Linked DNA regions of Homo sapiens. The protein of the gene in region 2 purifies or fractionates together with the protein of the main gene of each other region. This does not show direct contact. Each region holds a gene or a part of one and is shown on either strand. Other genes may lie near its edges.

The links. The genes of interacting proteins can lie anywhere in the genome.
Region 1: the proteins of FGFR1OP2 (region 2) and MTCH2 purify together in Homo sapiens (co-immunoprecipitation; one large-scale study listed by IntAct). This does not show direct contact.
Region 3: the proteins of FGFR1OP2 (region 2) and MRRF purify together in Homo sapiens (affinity purification with mass spectrometry; one large-scale study listed by BioGRID and IntAct). This does not show direct contact.
Region 4: the proteins of FGFR1OP2 (region 2) and STRIP1 purify together in Homo sapiens (affinity purification with mass spectrometry; 3 studies listed by BioGRID and IntAct, with this or other methods). This does not show direct contact.

What each region holds. Positions count from the first base shown.
Region 1 is NC_000011.10:47,632,537-47,637,250, forward strand, and holds part of MTCH2 (mitochondrial carrier homolog 2), read right to left. Parts: intron 3,036-4,714; coding exon 3,009-3,035; intron 2,199-3,008; coding exon 2,136-2,198; intron 1-2,135. UniProt on the Homo sapiens protein: Protein insertase that mediates insertion of transmembrane proteins into the mitochondrial outer membrane. Catalyzes insertion of proteins with alpha-helical transmembrane regions, such as signal-anchored, tail-anchored and multi-pass membrane proteins.
Region 2 is NC_000012.12:26,961,466-26,966,140, reverse strand, and holds part of FGFR1OP2 (FGFR1 oncogene partner 2), read right to left. Parts: intron 2,800-4,675; coding exon 2,686-2,799; intron 1,546-2,685; coding exon 1,408-1,545; 3' UTR 1-1,407. UniProt on the Homo sapiens protein: May be involved in wound healing pathway.
Region 3 is NC_000009.12:122,273,691-122,278,404, reverse strand, and holds part of MRRF (ribosome-recycling factor, mitochondrial isoform 1 precursor), read right to left. Parts: intron 1-4,714. UniProt on the Homo sapiens protein: Responsible for the disassembly of ribosomes from messenger RNA at the termination of mitochondrial protein biosynthesis. Acts in collaboration with GFM2. Promotes mitochondrial ribosome recycling by dissolution of intersubunit contacts.
Region 4 is NC_000001.11:110,039,933-110,044,646, reverse strand, and holds part of STRIP1 (striatin-interacting protein 1), read right to left. Parts: exon of another isoform or gene 4,710-4,714; intron 4,013-4,709; coding exon 3,944-4,012; intron 3,112-3,943; coding exon 3,005-3,111; intron 2,914-3,004; coding exon 2,786-2,913; intron 1,560-2,785; coding exon 1,377-1,559; intron 1,009-1,376; coding exon 791-1,008; intron 329-790; coding exon of another isoform or gene 310-328; exon of another isoform or gene 1-309. UniProt on the Homo sapiens protein: Plays a role in the regulation of cell morphology and cytoskeletal organization. Required in the cortical actin filament dynamics and cell shape. Part of the striatin-interacting phosphatase and kinase (STRIPAK) complexes.

The DNA of each region.
Region 1 (4,714 bases), on a different chromosome or scaffold from region 2:
TTTTTAGTAGAGACGGTTTCACCGTGTTAGCCAGGATGGTCTCGATCTCCTGACCTCATGATCCGCCCGCCTCGGCCTCCCAAACTGCTGGGATTACAGGCATGAGCCACCGTGCCTGGCCGGCTTTTGCATTTAAACAGTATCTTTATGGTCACTGAGTTTTTTCTTTTCTTTTTTTTTGAGACAGAGTCTTGCTCTGTTGCCCGGGCTGGAGTGCAGTGGTGCGATCTCAGCTTGCTGCAACCTCCACCTCCCAGGTTCAAGTGATTCTCCCGCCTCAGCCTCCTGAGTAGCTGGGATTACAGGCACACACCACCATGCCCAGTTAATTTTTTTTGTATTTTTAGTAGAGATGGGATTTCGCCATGTTGGCCAAGCTGGTTTTGAATGCCTGACCTCGTGATCTGCCCGCCTCAGCCTCCCAAAGTGCTGGGATTATAGGTGTGAGCCACCACACCCGGCCTAGTCACTGAGTTTTAAGACAGCCCTCACCCCTTCTCCAAGGGCATAAGATCCTATGGGACTGGATGGGCAAACTAAGGAAAATACTAATTGCATAGTAATACATGTATCCCTGCTTTTTTTTTTTTTTTGAGAGGGAGTCTCGCTGTCTCCCAGGCTGGAGTGCAGTGGCGCAGTCTTGGCTCACTGCAAGCTCCACCTCCCAGGTTCACGCCATGCTCTTGCCTCAGCCTCCCGAGTAGCTGGGACTACAGGCGCCTGCCACCATGCCCAGCTAATTTTTTTGTATTTTTCGTAGAGACGGGGTTTCACCGTGTTAGCCAGGGTGGTCTCAATCTCCTGACTTCGTGATCTGCCCGCCTCGGCCTCCCAAGGTGTTGGGATTACAGGTGTAAGCCACCACGCCCGGCCGTATCCCTGCTTTTAAGCAAACTAATTTCATGAAAATTTACAGAAAATAGAGCTAATTTATCTGGTTTCCAGACCTTTAGTAATGTTTGTTTTGGAATATATATATATATATATATATTTTTTTTTTTTTTTTTTTTTTTTCTTGAGATGGAGTCTCACTCCTGTGGCCCAGGCTAGAGTGCAATGGTGCAATCTTGGCTCATTACAACCTCTGCCTCCCGGGTTCAAGCCATTCTCCTGCCTCAGCCCCCCAAGTAGCTGGGATTACAGACATGCGCCACCATGCCTGGCTAATTTTTGTATTTTTAGTAGAGACGGGGTTTCTCCATGTTGGTCAGGCTGGTCTCCAACTCCCAACCTCAGGTGATCCGCCCGCCTCGGCCTCTCAAAGTGCTGGGATTACAGGCATGAGCCACTGCGCCCAGCCTTTGGAATATGTATTTTGGATGGCTGCATTTCCTGGATAATTGTGACTTCATTAATGACAATTAAGACAATGTGAAGACTTAAGTAATAAGAGAATAGTTCTGAAAGCCAGGCACAGAAACACCTATGGCAGCATATGGGGGTGGGAAATGGGTGATGAGGAACTTTTCAGAGTCAGAAAAATGTCAAAAGAGCCTTTCTGCATAGATACTATCCAACATACAAAGGGCCTGGTCGCTATTTTAATACTTTTTTCTAAAGACAAGGTCTTGCTCTATCACACAGGCTGGAGTATGGTGGCACAATCATAGCTCACTGCAGCCTCAACTTCCTGGGCTTAAGTCATCTTCTCACCGCAGCCTCTCGAGTACCTGGGACTACAGATATGTGCCACCACACACCTAGCTAATTTTTCTATTTTTTTTGTAGAGAGGAAGTCTCACTATGTTGCATAGGCTGGTCTCTAACTCCTGGGGTCAAGTGATCTTCCTGCCTTGGCCTCCCAAAGTGCTGGGATTACAGGCGTGAGCCACCACACCTGGCCTATTTTAACACTTTTATTCCTGAGGTTTTCAACACTATTAGAAGACTTTCAGTATTCTAAAGACGGAATGTGTGGGCAAAATGAGTTTTCTTGAAATGCATCTATTCTGAACAGCAAGCACTGATCCTCTCTCTTTTTAATGTTATACATGTAGTAAAGCCCAAATTAATTTGAAGGTTTAATTTCATTTGGGAACAGACACTGAACACACAGGCCTGATGATTCTGATTCCATAGTTGCAACACCACAGTTTGATCTGGGCAAACAGCACAGGATGTAATTCATCTCTTACCTCCTTGATAACGTGGTCAAAGGAAGATGAGACTTCTTTCTGTACATTTCCAGGTCCTAACTCCTGGAAATCAAAATCAAAGAAAATAGAGATCTTGATTTTTTTTTTTTTTTTTTTTTGAGACAGAGTCTCGCTCTGTCGCCCAGGCTGGAGTGCAGTGGCACAATCTCGGCTCACTGCAAGCTCCACCGCCTGGGTACAAGTGCTTCTCCTGCCTCAGCCTCCCAAGTAGCTAGGATTACAGGTGCTCGCCACCACGCCCTGCTAATTTTTGTATTTTTAGTAGAGACGGGGTTTCACCGTGTTAGCCAGGATGGTCTCGATTTCCTGACCTCGTGATCTCCACCTGCCTCGGCCTCCCAAAGTGCTGGGATTACAGGCATGAGCCACCATGGGCGGCCGATCTTGACGGTTTTTATTTCTTTTGAGATAGGGTCTCGCTCTGTCACTCACGCGGAGTGCAGTGATGTGATCATGGATCACTGCAGTCTTGACGTCCTGGACTCAAGTGATCCTCTCACCTCAACCTCCCATGTAGCTGAGATACAGAGGTATGTGCCACCAGGCCCCGCTAATCTTTGATTTTCTGTAGAGAAGGGGTCTATGTTGCCCAGGCTGGTCTCAAACTCTTAGATGCAAGTGATCCTCCCACCTTGGCCTCCGAAACTGCTAGGATTACAGGCATGAGCCACCATGCCCAGCCATCCTGATGGTTTCAAACAGAACTGTCCAAACTGGTGGCCACCCCATAGGACAACACTCACTGAGATGAATAGGAGACTGACTACTTGGCTTTTCTCCAAAAGAGGCCCCAAAAGCAGTAACAACTTGCAAGGGAAAGGCCCTCATGCTTAGAAATCAGCTCCAACATACCTCACCCTTGTCACTCTCCTGGTAATGCTATAGAAAAAAAGAAAAAGGATGATTAGGGTTATTACAGTGTCATGTGAAAGAAGACATAAAATGAAAACTCTACTGACAGAAAGTAAATTAGCTGAAGTTTTTTTTAAAGTTTTTGTTTTTTTTTTTAAGCTGCAAATCTTCAGTTAACTTCTACTCATTAATCAACTGGAAATATGGATCTCCAAGATAAACTTGTTGCTAAGTTTAACATATTGGTCAGTTGGAAGAAAAGCAAATGGTCATGAAAACTCTTCTTTGAAAAAAGAAAAGGGGACAGGTGTGGTTGCTCATGCCTGTAATCCCAGCACTTTAGGAGGCCGAGGTGGGCAGATCACCTGAGGTCAGGAGTTCAAGTCTAGCCTGGCCAACATGGTGAAACCCCATCTCTACTAAAAATACAAAAATTAGCGGAGCATTGGGGCGCACGCTTTTAATCCCAGCTCTTAGGGAGGCTGGGGCAGGAGAATCACTTGAACCCAGGAGGCAGAGGTTGCAGTGAGCCAAGATCACGCCACTGCACTGCAGCCCAGGTGACAGAGCAAGAGTCCGTCTCAAGAAAAAAAAAAAGAAAAGGGAAGGCTGGGTGCGGTAGCTCACGCCTATAATCTCAGCACTTTGGGAGGCCAAGGCAGGTGGATCACCTGAGGTTAGGAATTTGAGACCAGCCTGGCCTACGTGGTGAAACTCCATCTCTACTAAAAGTACAAAAATTAGCTGGGCTTGGTGGCGGGCGCCTGTAATCCCAGCTACTTGGGAAGCTGAGACAGGAGAATTGCTTGAACCCGGGGGGTAAAGACTGCAGTGAGCTGAGATCACATCACTGCACTCCAGCCTGGGCAACAGAGCAAGACTCCATCTCAGAAAAAAAGAAAAGGGGCCGGGCATGGTGCCTCACGCCTGTAATCCCAGCACTTTGCGTGGCTGAGGCAGGCGGATCACCTGACGTCAGGAGTTTGAGAACAGCCTGGCTGACATGGCGAAACCCCCTCTCTACTAAAAATACAAAAATTAGCTGGGCGTGGTGGTAGGTGCCTGTAATCCCAGCTACGTGGGAAGCTGGGGCAGGAGAATTGCTTGAACCCGGTAGGTGGAAGCTGCAGTGAGCCGAGACCATGCCATTGCACTCCAGCCTGGGCAACAAGAGTGAAACTCTGTCTCAAAAAAAAACAACAAAAAAACCCAAAAAACGAAAAGGGAACATGCGCAGTGACTCACGCCTGTAATCCCAACACTTTGGAAGGCCGAAGAGGGAGGACTGCTTGAGCCCAGGAATTCAAGACCAGACTGGGCAACATAGTGAGACTTTGTCTCTAAAAAAATAATAATAAATTTAAAGAAATAATTACAAAATAAGAACAACAACAAAAAAGAAAATTCAAGAACTCTGTTTTTTTTTTTTTTTAGATGGAGTTTCACTCTTGTCACCCAGCTGGAGTGCAATGGTGCAATCTCGGCTCACTGCTGGAGTGCAATGGTTCAATCTCAGCTCACTACAACCTCTACCTCCCAGATTCAAGCGATTCTCCTGCCTCAGCCTCCTGAGTAGCTGGGATTACATGCGCCCACCACCACGCCTGGCTAACATCTGTATTTTTAGTAGAGACAGTGTTTCACCATGTTGGCCAGGCTGGTCTCAAACTGCTGACCTCGGCTGATCCACCCGCCTCAGCCTCCCA
Region 2 (4,675 bases):
CCCATTCACCCCAAACTTAAGATAAAAAAATTCTCAAGTGTAGTTTTGAATTTTACCAATATATGAAATTATACATAAAATTACCATATAAAGTAATATTTAACAAATTATATACTCAAAGTATAATTTTCCATTTGTCTTAATTTTAATACGTATTCAACATAAATGAGTACAATATATTTAACCATGTTTGACACTCTTCTTTTATCCCTTTTTAATACAATCACCACAACATAAGAAAATTTAGGTTTCAACTGATGTTAAAGCACATTTCTGTATCTGGTGGTTTTTAAAAAAATTACATATTATATATTTGACATTTTAAAAGACAACAGAAACAAATCCACAGATTACTCCACCTTTACCCCCACTTTCAGCTGAAAGGTTTTAAGAAAAATCTTGCAGGTTATGAGGACCAGATGGAGCTTAAAAACAGATCCGGAACTTTTTTTTTGAAATTGTATTTACTTTTTTTTTTTGTATCTCAAGAATACTTAAAGGAAAAAAAAAAGGGTTCTATGAGCCAGAGGAATTCCCAATTCACTTTGAAATTACCATACCTATCTTGCCATATCAAACATTTCAATTCTGTTAACTAAATGAACTACATAATATCCTTAAAAATCAGCCAGAGAAGAGAAAAACAAATCTCGTCTTCATTATTGACTTTGAACCAAAACTTATTCTTTCAAAGGAGTAGTTTAACCTACTAAATATGTCTATTATAAGATCTTCTTTCTTAGAAAGTAGTATTCCTTCTTTTTCATTCCTGAAATGGTATTTCTTACACTTAAACAAGTTATGGACAATTGTTAGCTAAGTATCAGTTATGATAAATTGCTAAAATTAAATTATCTGTTTAAGGTACATATAACACATTCCTATAGCCTTTAAAACTGTATTTTCTTTCACAAAAATTTAAATAAATGTGAAAGTAGGCAATCACTAGAAGTCTCATGGTACATAAACTTTGCATCAACTTTGACGCCAAATAAGGATGAAATTTAGCGTACAAATCCTCCGTTCACAAAACAGTGGCAAAAATTTATATTTTTAAATTGGTATAATTTTATGCATTCTCAAACATTTACTGGGAATATTCAAGTTTACCTAATTAATCACCCAGAAAGCCAGCAGTACTGCCAAAAGCTCTTGGTATATTCAGTAGTCACTGTGAAAACTTTTCATTTCTTTACCATTTGGCAATGGCTCAGTTTCTATTTTCCAATTATGTTTTGGAATAAAGTCTATGACCATTAACTATGCATTTTTTGTTGCTATCTCATAGCCCGTGCACTGTACATATTTACAGAGAAAAAAATAAAGGATTGAATTTTCTGTCCATTCATTCATTCACTTATTTGACCATTTGGAGCCATGTAAGAAGCTCACAGACTCAGAAACTCTTCAGCTCTTCCTCAGACTCAAATCACTGTTGGTCACTAATGCTGACAAAGAAGTACTTTCCGACGCATCATCTTTCCTTAGGTTCAAAAATGATTCTCGAGTTATTTGAAGGATCTCTCTCAAGCCTTTGTTTTCTTGCTAAAAGGCAAGCAAAAACAAAGATGCAGTCACTATCTACAAGGTAGCTACAACATCACAAACATATGTTAGGAAAAACTGAACATATGAAGGTATAACAAACAAGCAAGGTCTGTAATTGGCATTAATCTACTCAATGATATATGCAGTTGGCAACTTGAATCTAAAGAACACTTATGCAGCTAGGAATCGTGTTCAACATCTTCCACCACTGCAAAGCCTTCTTACTTAAGCAGCTATAATTGTAAACAGAAGCTCAGAAATTGCCTTATTTTACAATCACATTAGAGATGAAGAAAATAACATCTAGATTTATTTTTATATAAACTCGTAAAGCCAGTGAATAGGCTAGAATCTCCTAGTAATTTTTAGTATTTTTATTACTTTCCATGATAGCATGGAATGTAGGACAAGTTTAGCTCATTGGCATTTGAGAGCAGCAGGGTAGGGGTAGCTGATGATATTTTTCAAGAAGGAAAGTAAGTGACCAAATCTGGCACTGGTAAATAACTTTGCTTTCTGGCCTCCTTTTGGTTAGTTACTGTAAAAAAATTTGTAGACATTTAACAATAACCTTTCATAATTTGTTCTCTATCACTTTATCTTCAGTCTCACTTTCTAAATTTTAGTAGTCTAAAGCAGGTTCCCCGCCGTGATTTCAAAATGAAGCTCTTAAGGCATAAAAGTCTATTGTACTGATTTCAGTTATTCAGAGACTGGTACTTTCACTGTCATAAAATAAAGGACAGATGACAAAGGTTTTTAGAATCCCCAGAAAAATAAGAGTGCCCCTAAATATTTGTGGATTAAAAAAAATTTCCCTGTATCACTATGATCTCTAATAGAATAAACAAAATTTTAAAAATGACTCAATTGAAGAAGTACATTCACTTCATAAGATAAGCAATATAGAATGAAACATCAATTTTCTACATTACTGGTATATTGTAAGTTACTAATAATCCTAGATTCTTGCATCACCACATAAATGGTCTTGCATAATATGCCCACATAGACAGCATCCAGGAGAACATTACCAGTACCCAAGAAGAGTAAATATATATTTAAAAATGGGATATATTTTCTGGCATAAATCTTTATATGGACAGTTTTCATCTACATTTGCAATGTAAAACTTACTTCAAGTTGAAATATTCGTTCTTGTTCCTTGCAACCCTGTTGCTCGTCAATTTCAATGGCTTTCCTCATTACTGCTGCCATTTCAGTTATCTGGTCAACATGTGCTTGCAGTTCCTGAAAAAGAGGGATGGGAGTTGGAAATCAGCAAAATACTTTTTTATTTTTGGATCCTCTCCTTTTTATAAAATCTGCAGTACCACTTAACATGAATATTCTTACATTGTCACTTAATATGAATAAAACAAATATTAACAATGAAGTTGGTTGACCACAGATGTGCTTTTGAAATCAAATTTGTTAGGACTAGAATTAAGAATAAGCAGCACAATATAACTAAACCTAGCAGCAAGAAAAATACTCATATTTTACATTCCTCTCACCACAATGATCAGCAACTTTTTCTTTTTTTTTGCACTTACATACACTATTGTTCAAAGTAACGGGAATGATAAAAATTGCCGACGCATTCAATCTCTTTTCCTCCCTGAAGTCTTCAATGATTTAGAAATCTTTTCTGTATTGTTCAGGCCTATAAAGTTATCTCAATCCAATCTGTAACCTTTTCTAGGTCATAATCCTCTTTGAGAGCAGGAACTGCATCTTTACATCCACCTACTATCTAGTGTATGGTATATGGTAAGTATTGAATAAAATGAGCACAATTCTGCTTTTCAGTATTAAAATATTAAATGGCCTTCTTTGCTAACTATTGAAAATATAGTATCAGTATAATACAGACATCCACATTTGTTAGGCGCAGCAAGTAGCATAAATTCTTCCAATCTCATTTTCTTATCTTGCACACCTATGATGTGCCAGTACTATGCTAAACAACAGGAATACAAAGACTGTCAAGACATGTCCCCTGATCTGAAGAAGCTTACAGTCTAGTGAAAGAGACAGACAAAAAAGGTTTAAAATCAACAGAAACTCGAGAATAATCATTTTCTCAATGAACAGCTTCTATAGACCATTATTCACAGCAACTGAGAGGTATTTTATCATATTAAGCCTAAGACTTAAATATAAAAGTGAATAACTCCCCAAATAAACAGTCTCTTCAGTAGTTGTGTATATATATATTTGTAAAAAGGATTTAACAGTACTCCAAGAAACCCACGGAACTAATAAGCTGGAAGAAATGACAAGGTAGTATCTTTGGCAAAGCACATTTAATAACCTCTTAACCAACAAAAATGTAGGTCCTTTTCATGGGGAAACCTATACACTGCTAGTACTCAGCAAGAAGGTACTCTAAAAGGCTAATCTGTGCTGTCCAAAACAATGTTAAACTTAATTAAAATCAATACATTTTTAAAAATTAACAATTCAGTCCCTCAAACGCATTAGTGACACTGCAAGTGCTCAACAGCCACATGTGGCTACTGGCTTCCACACTGGACAGCACAGATAAAAAACATTCCAATCATTTCAGAAAGTTCTACTGGATAGTTTTGAATTAGATTATGGTAGGAAGAATGATATTAAGACAAGTATCTGTCATATTCTGCAAGTTAACCATTAAAATTCCTCCCATTGTCAAGGAAGCATAATATGTAAAAGCAGGTTAAGTACAGATCATTGCAGCTGCAAACTGAGTAAGGGTAATGAGTAAAAACTTTGAATACCAACAGCATCCTCAATTTATGATTTGGTCAGTCCTATGGCACTGACCTAAGTTAAAAAACTACACAGAAAGCAAGCATTTCTTTTTTTTTAGACAGAGTCTCGCTCTTGTTGGCCAGGCTGGAGTGCAATGGCACGACCTCGGCTCACTGCAACCTCCCACTCCCAGGTTCAAACAATTCTCTTGCTTTAGCCTCCCGAGCAGCTGGGATTACAGGCACCCGCTATCACGCCTGGCTAACTTTTTGTATTTTTAGTAGAGATGGGGTTTCACCATGTTGGCCAGGCTGGTCTCCAATTCCTGACGTCAGGTGATCCACCCACCTCAGCCTCCCAATTACAGGCATGAGCCACCATGCCTAGC
Region 3 (4,714 bases), on a different chromosome or scaffold from region 2:
GAATAATAGTTATCTGCAAAGGGTCAAGGGTAGTACTTACTAGAAAGAAGCACAAAGGGGACTTTTGACATGCTAAGAATGTTCTGTTTTTTTTATCTGGGTGCTGTAAGTGATTTCAGCTTGTGAAATTTATGACAGCTGCACTTTCCTACAGGGTTTTTTTATTTCTATAAAAAGGTTAAAAAATTAGTTAAGGGTAACCATCAAAACAATAATAAATTAAAAGTATATCTTCCAAATCAGCAGAATTTAAAAAAGAGAGAGAGAGGGATAAAGAAATTTAATCTAATGGGAAAAGAAGAAGAAAAAAGGAAAAAAAGGAATATTTCAACACAGCTAAAAGAACTTTAAATGTTCCCAACACATAAAAATGATAAAAGCTTGAGATGCTGGATACCCCATATACCCTAACTTAAATCATTTATGCATGTAACAAAACATCACATATACCCCATAAGTATGTACAAATATGTATCAATAAAAAAAATTTTTAAATATGCATTTAAAAAAAAGAAAAAAGGAAAAAACATGATATAAAGAAAGTCCAAAATAAGGCCAGGCGTGGTGGCTCATGCCTGTAATCCTAGCACTTTGGCAAGCCAAGGCGGGCGGATCACCTGAGGCCAGGAGTTTGAGATCAGCCTAGCCAACAAGGCAAAACACCATCTCTACTAAAAATACAAAAAATTAGCTGGGCATGGTGGCGTATGCCTGTAGTCCCAGCTACTCGGGAGGCTGAGGCACAAGCATCACTTGAACCTGAGAGGCGGAGGTTGCGGTGAGCCGACACTGCACCACTGCATTCCAGCCTGGACGACAGAGTGAGACTCTGTCTCAAAAAAAAGAAAGAAAGTACAAAATAAAATAATAACACAAATATGCAGTGACTACAATAAATATAAATGGATCAAAATGACAAGTTAAAAGTGGGAGATTCTCAGTAAGATTTTTAAAAATCTAGCTGAATATAACATAACGGTTTTTAAAAATTATAAAAGATCACAGAAAGTTTGATGTATAGGGATGGAAAAATTATAAGCCTGGCAAACATCAGTCAAAAGAAGGCTGGTGTAGCTACATTATCATCAAACAAAAAAGATTTTAAGACAAAATTCACTATTGGAAATCATGAAGACAACTTCAAAATGATAATAGAAACAATTCACCAGAAAGATATATAACAATTCTAAGATTAAATATATCAATAAGATAGCCTCAAAATTAATACAATTAAAAGAAGAAACTGGCTGGGTGCAGTGACTTACACTTGTAATCCCAGCACTTTGTGGGGCTGAGGTGGGCAGATTGCTTGATCCCAGCAGTTCAAGACCAGTCTGGGAAACATTGCAAAACCCAGTCCCTACAAAAAATACAAAAATTACCAGGCATGGCCGTGCGTGCCTGTAGTCCCAGCTACTTGGGAGGCTGAGGTAGGAGAATCAGTTGAGCCCAGAAGATTAAGGTTGCAGTGGGCTGTGATTGCACTGCTGCACTACAGCCTGGGCAAGACCCCGTCTCAAAAAACAACAAAAAAGGAGAAACTGATCAATCTACAAGCATACTAGGAGAGTTCAATATACCTTCCTTGATAACCGATAAGTAAGCAAATAAAAAAACAGAAAAGTTGATCAATAAAATTAGTCAATTTGATCTAATACAATACACCCAAGAAAAAAAGAATACACATTATTCTCAAGCACACTTGGACCTTCTATGAAACAACCATGTTTTACACACAAATCAAATCTCAACAAAAATAAAAGAATCTATATCATATAGAACATGCCTTCTGAACAGAGTAGAATTAAGCTAACCCCAAAACAACCATTTGTTTGAAAAACTTTAAACACTTCTTAATAAACACTCATGGGCTATAAAGAAATGCATAATGGAAATGTTTAAATATTGAGAAATGACCATAATAAAAATATTCAATGTCAAAAACTCAAGTCAGACACGATGGCTCAACACCTGTGATCCCAGCGCTCTGGAAGGCCAAGGCGAGAGGATCACTTGAGCCCAGGAGTTCAAGGTTACAGTGAGGTATGATTGTGCCACTGCACTCCAGCCTAGGCAACAAAGCAAGACCTTATCTCTAAAATAAATAAACAACCTTATAGGAAGCATTTAAAGTTGTATTTAGACAGAAACTTCTAACCTTAATACTTTAAAAACAAAACAAAACAAAACAGGCTGGGCGTGGTGACTCATGCCTGTAATTCCAGCACTTTGGGAGCCCAAGGTGGGCGGATCACCCAAGGTCAAAAGTTCGAGACCAGCCTGGCCAACATGGCGAAATCCCATCTCTACTAAAAAAAAAAATACAAAAATTAGCTGGGCGTGGTGGCAAGTGCCTATAGTCCCAGCTACTTGGGAGGCTGAGGCAGGAGAATTGCTTGAACCCAGGAGGACAAGGCTGCAGTGAGCTGAGATCATGCCACTGCACTCCAGTCTGGGTGACAGAGGGAGACTCCATCTCAAAAAAACAATAAGAAATAAAAATAAAGAAGAAAGTATTATGCACAATGGTAAGATATGAAAACAACCAAAGTGTCTGTGGATAGAGAAATGATGTGGGTGCATGTATGGGTGTGTGTGTTTGTGTATAAAGTGGCATATTATTCAACCTTAAAAAACGAGACCTTGCCATTTGCCATGGATGAACCCGGAGGACATTACACTAAGCAAAATAAGCCACACACAGAAAAATACTGCATGATTATACTTGTATGCAGAATCTCAGGGTTGGGGTTTGCTTGTTTGTATTTTAGACAGGGCCTCACTCTGTCACCCAGACTGGAGTGCAGTGGTGCGATCTCAGCTCACTACAGGCCTCAACCTCCCTGGGCTCTGGTGATTCTCCCATCTCAGCATCCTGAATAGCTGGGACTACAGGCGCATGCCACCATGCCTGGCTAATTTTTGTATTTTTTTTGTAGAGAAGAGGTTTCACCACATTGCCCAGACTGATCTTGAACTCCTGGGCTCAAGTGATCCACCCGCCTCGGCCTCCCAAAGTGCTGGAATTATGAGCATGAGCCACCATGCCTAACCACATGCGGAATCTACAAAAAAGATGAATACACACAGAGAATAAAATAATACTTAGCAGGGGTCAGCGGGGTGGGGTGGTGGTGGTGGTGAGGAAATGGAGAGATATAAATCAAAGGATACAAAGTAGTAGATATGTAGGATGAACAAGTCTGGAGATCTAATGTACAATAGGAGGACTATAGTTAGTAATATTGTATTATACTCTGGATTTTTTGCTAAGACAGATTTTATGTGCTTTCGCAAAAAAAAAAAAAAGGAGGTAACTATGTAAGATAATGGATATGTTAATTTGCATGTATGTAACCATATCACTGCATGTATATCAAAGCATCATGTTTATAATAAAATTTTTCAAAGAAAAAAAGAAAACAGGAAAGACCAAAAATTAATGAACTAATTGTCCAACTCAGAGGATAGAAACAGAACAAGTACACAGGAGAAAGTAAATAATAAAGAACAGAAATCATAAAATTGCAAAAAAGAGAGATCAAAAAATTAAAGACTCTTTTAAAAGGTTTATAACTTCTGTCAAGAACAATTAAGAAAAGAAGAAAGTAGATGCAGATAAATAATATTAAGAAAGAAAAAATGGACATGACTATAAAAATAGTAGAAATCTTAATAAGAGACTATTATGAACAACTTTATATCAACAACTTTGAAAGGTCAAAAAAATGAAAAATTTCCTAAAATATATAACTTACTAAATCAAGAGAAAAATCTAAGCAGTCTCATAATCATTAAAGGAACCAATTCTATGATTTAAAGTCTACCTACACACACACACACACACACACACACACACACACACACACACCAGATTCATATTACTTTACAGGCAAGTTCTATCAAACACGCAAGGGGCCGGGTTTTGCCATGTTGGCCAGGCAGGTCTCCAACTACTGACCTCAAGTGATCCACCCACCTTGGCCTCCCAAAGTCCTGGGATTACAGACGTGAGCCATCGTGCCTGGCCTAAATCTTTTTCCTTTATAAATTACCCAGTCTCAGGTTTTTCTTCATAGCAGCATGAGAACAGACTAACACAGTCTATGTGTCTGTTTTTATGCCCATACCATGCTGTTTTGGTTACTATAGCTCTGTGGTATAATTTGAAGTCAGGTAATATGATTTCTCCACATACATAACTCTTAAGGTTAACATATAAGAAGTGTTTCCTATAAAGTCAGGACTAAAACAAAGATGCCTATTATCACCAGTCACATTTATTCAAATTACACTAGAGTTCCTAGCCAATCCAATGACAGTGAGGGGAGGAGAGGAGAAGGGAGGGCAATAGGACAGGAGGGGAGAAGAATGGAAAGGGACATATGTGCACCACAACACATGTACAAGAATGCTTATACTAGCATTATTTGTTTTAGCTCAAAACTGGAAACAACCCAAATGTCTGTTAACTGTAGGATGGATATTAAATTGTGGTATATACTTTCAGTAGAATATCATTAAAAAAATAAAAATGCACAAACAACCATTATGTGCACAACATGGACATATCTCACAAATAGATTATTACCACAGAAGTCAGACACAAAATCCATACTGACGTCACAAAGGACAAAACTAATCTGTGGTGTTAAAGTCAATATAGTGGGTTATCTATCCTTACAGTGAGACAGTAACAACTCAAAGGGACATG
Region 4 (4,714 bases), on a different chromosome or scaffold from region 2:
GGATCAGTAACCTGGAAATACATGTTAACTAGTTTATTCATAAAATTAAAGGGATATATCAAACTTAAAAACATGCTTTATTCAGATAGTATGAACAAGTTTGTCAACAGACTTTCTTAAATATTAAAACTTTTAAACAATTAAAGCTATAGGCTACTGATTTTTCATATAGCTCACTTTTCCTATCCCAAACAATCAGCATACCTTGCATTTTCTGATGATCTGTTTTGCATTCCCTTCACAGATCACTGAAAACTGAGGCTTTACCTGGATCAAGAAAGCGACTTCTATATCCTCTCACATGTTCATCTATTTCTTAAGCTGCTGCCTATCAAACAGACACCATTTATATATCTCCAGGTACCGTCCCATCCATCGATTTACCCACATATATCTCAAACATTTTCATTATGGCTCTAAAGAAACTCTTCCTTAATCTATCATTTTTGTTAAAAACCATACACAACCCCAGGATGGGTGGAGACATGTTTGCTTAAATGCTTTTGTTTTTATTTGTTTCCTATCCCCCTTCACTAGCACATCTAACCAAGAGCTAACTCCAATTACTGCCTCAGTAGCCACATGAGGGCCATGTTGTGTGAGACCAGCAAGGCCGGCCTCCCTGAGACCCTCAGGACAGCACAGGGTGCTTTAAGAGAGCCTCATCCCAGAGCCACGGTCAGCCTGCCCTGCAGAGGACCACACATGGTGACACAGGCCAGGTGGCAGGCCTGAGGGTGTGAGGGCTCTGCCTCAGGAACTATGAGTGCTCTGGAGGTCTGAGACTCACCTGACCTTGGGAGCCCACGGGAGCCCTTTGGGGCAAGTCAGCCTGTCAGTCTGTGGGTGCTGTAGCGGGGGAGGCATCACTTCATCCCGTTCCAGGGGAAACGTCTCCCCCTCCAGACTGTTGTCATCATCATTCTCCTCTTCCTCTTCTCGAGAGTCATCAGCCTTGTAGGGATCCCGCTCGTTGAAGGCATCTAGGTTGTCCTGCTTTATCAGAGCCTGAAACCAGGGAAGGGAGATGAGACAAGAGCCAACTGAGGACGCAGACCAGGGAAGTGCAGCCAGAGGAGACACAGCACATACAGGTGTCCAGTAGAGGCAAGAACAGTGGAAAAACCACAGTGGGAGTCAAGACGGGGGCCAAACCATCAACTACTTCTTGCTCCAGTCCCTCAAAAGCACCACGTGCTGAGCACTCACCATACACTGGACCAGAGCTGGGGACAAAGTATCCTCGCTGTGGAGGCATGATTCTGACTGGCTGATCAGAGATCATTTCCAGCAGCCCTGCTCCTCCAAGGACTGTGCTGCTGCAAGCATGCACCTTGAGGGCCCTCAGGAGTCACAGGGACCTCTGTCGTCCTCACCTTGTGCTCTCGGCGGCCCCGTTTCTGCTGCTGCTCAATCAAGTCTGAAGCAGATGCTGGTGGAGAGGCTGCTCTCATGTTGCGAATCACTTTGATGCTGTCCTCAGGAAGCGGGGGGAGGCCCAGGATGCTGCGCTTCTCAGCCTTCATGCTCTGCAGCTCCTCAAAGCCGCCTAGCGTGCACTGCATCACAGACAGGGAAGCAGAGCCAGGGTCAATGTGTCCACAGGCTGGCCCCTGACCATTGTGTCAGGCTCAGAAACATTCATGACATCATGACCCATGTCTTTATAGAGACCCAGGCAACTCCTGAACAATGGACTGAAGCCACTCCCAAGGAGAATTCCGTGACATCCGCAAGGGAAAGGAGAAAAAGGAACAAGGAAAGAGTGGAGATGCAGGCTGACTGACCCTAGTGCAGATACACTAACTCTGCACCTATGACATACTCTTCAATTTAAAAAGAAGCAAAGAGCCTAACCCTGCAAGTTCCTAGAAAAGTTGGTGAGACTCATGTTTCACAAGTTGTACATGCAAGTCTTTCAAAGTCAAATTAGAAATACTGTTGGTTGCTCAACTTTAGAAGAAGAAAAAAAGCTTCATCTAAACATCTCCCAAGAAGCAGAAACGCCAGCAACATCCAGCTTTAGACTGCTTAGTTTTACTGTTTCTGAGCAATTCAGCTTTCCTCTCTAGCCTTAGCAAGGCTTTATGAAGAACAGAATGTGTGGCCAAGATAAAATGTGTCAATGACTTTTAAGAAATCCTATACTTACTGAGCCCTGGCTCCAGAGTTGACCCATTCTGAAAGGAAGGATGAGCCCCAGTGTAGCAGAGGCCCAACTCACCTCCACCGCCTCCCCATGTCACTCCTCCTGGGAAGGCCTCCTGGCATGGCCTGGCTGCTAACAACGCTCCAAGCCCAGTGTGCTGGACGGCCCACTCTGGCACCCAGTCCCTCCCTACCTAGACACAGAGTCGGGCTGACACCATACCCTGAAGAAAATGGAGGCTGGCTCAGGGCTCACTCTTGCCCCTTTAAGTGATATCCAACCAGGGCCCCAATTACATCAGCTGTAACTTTGCCTCAAATCCCTTTACAAACTCCAGGTCCAGAGCTGCTTGCTGAGAGGCAACTTGTCTGGGGGAGAGCTGTTCTATGACAGAAAACAGCTTCCGGGGTCAGAGAGCCAACAGCCTACTCTGACTCAAGGCCTATGTCCTCGTTGGCTGCAATGGGACAATAGTGGCCCTTCTTTTGTCATCTCCTTTTAGCAGCTTTTTAAATAATTTTTTTTACCAAAGCAGTTTTACAGTCACATAATTCAATATTCAAAAGGATATTCAAGGAACAGTCTCCCTACTGCCCATCCCATAGCACCGTTCTCCTCCTCCAAGGAGGTGCTCACCAATACTGTCTTCCAGAGCAGCAAGAGAACTTTCTTCATGGGAAAGTGAGGGGCGTGACCACTGCAAAATTTGGTCACCATCCCAAACAGCATGATGGCAAATGGCTCATTGTTGTACAGCGGGGAGCCTGGAGGTGACACAAAGGTATCAGGACCCTCCCAAAGCCTTCCGCCTCAGCTTCCAGGCAGGGCCTCTAGAGAGGATCCCCAGGGTCCTACCCAGCTCGGCTCTGAAGGTCTGCCGCATGGTCCTCCACTCAGCCTTGTCACCCTCACACTCCTGATGAACGGTCTCCACTATCAGGTACATGATGTTGAGCAGGACCCTGAGGACAAGAGCCAGCTCACAATGGAGTGGGATGGGGGGGTCAAAGGAGCACCCTAGTGTCTAACAAAGTGCTTACACAAAGCAGGGGCTTACTATTAATAAATGGTATCTGAATAAATGAGTATGAACAAGAATGGCCAAAAGCATTTACCACCCTAAGCTTCCTGAAAAGAAAAAAACCACAGAGGTGGTAGCGAGCTGTAGGGTCAAAGCAGAACAGGGTCACAGTGAGAACAAAAACAGGGTTTATGATGAGGAAATGGAAAGCAGGAGCTGAGAGGTGACGCCCAGGGATCCTAACACCCGGGAGGCAACACTACAACCACCTAGTCTAAAAACTTCCAAATTCATAAAAAGAGCCAGATTTCAACCCTCAAAAACTGAGGGGTGATCTTGGTGGTCAGCAGTTGCTGTGAGCTCCTGGGCAGCCATGAAACATTAGGAAGCTGTCAGGTCTAACCCAATGAAGATGAGCATCAAGCTGTGTACACAAGAAGGTGGGAGTCCAGGGAACACCATCAAGTGTTTCATCCAAATACAAAATACCCCACGACCAGGTCCTGAGTAACAGTGTGAGTAGGAGGCCACACTTAGCTGTGGCTCTAGTAAGTCACTTGACCCTGGATTGCCTTTGGGAGTCTCAACCCAGAGTCCCACCTAGGACGAGCCCTCAGCAGTTCCTACTAATCATTCACACTGAGCCCATCACACATGCAGATGATGTGTACAGAAGCACACACAGCAATGACACCCACAGACAGCCTCCCACACCCTGCTCTGATCTCATCTCTGACTAACGCTCAGGAGCCCAGGCTTGCTGCTCGCCTCACCTGAGGTCTGTGCTGTCAGCCAGGGAGATGGCAGGCTTCCTCACAGCACTGCTGCAGGCGGCACTGTTGCTGCAGGAGATTTTGAGAGTCAGCATCTTCCTCCAAGAAGGAAGATAAGTGATGTCCCTGACAAGTACTGACCAATGGGGAAACAAAATGCTGTGATACGTGCTTGGACTGCACAAGAGGCCACAGGACACGGTGGTTAAGAAACCAGACCATGGCTGGGCATGGTGGCTCATGCCTGTAATCCCAGTACTTCGGGAGGCCGAGGCGGGTGGATCACCTGAGGTCAAGAGTTTGAGACCAGCCTGGCCAACATGGCGAAACCCCATCTCTACTAAAAATACAAAAATTAGCTGGGTGTGGTGGCAGGCACCTGTAAACCCAGCTACTCAGAAGGCTGAGGCAGGAGAATAGCTTGAAGCCGGGAGGTGGAGGTTGCAATGAGCCAAGTTCACGCCATATCACTCCAGCCTGGGCAACAGAACAAGACTCTCTCTCAAAAACAAAAACAAAAACAAAAAAAACACAAAAACAAAAACAAAAAACCCAGCCATGCACTGGACTGCCACGGTTTGAATCCTGGCTCTAACTGCGCCTTAGTTTCCTCATCTGTAAAATGGGGATGACAGTAGTACCTATATCCTTAACATGAATTAGCACATGTAATATTCTGAGAACAATGCCCGGGACACACAGGCACTCAATGAGCTGTCTTAGCTTTATCATTGATGGTGTTATCCTTAGATGAGCAGCAGCTGACCTGTC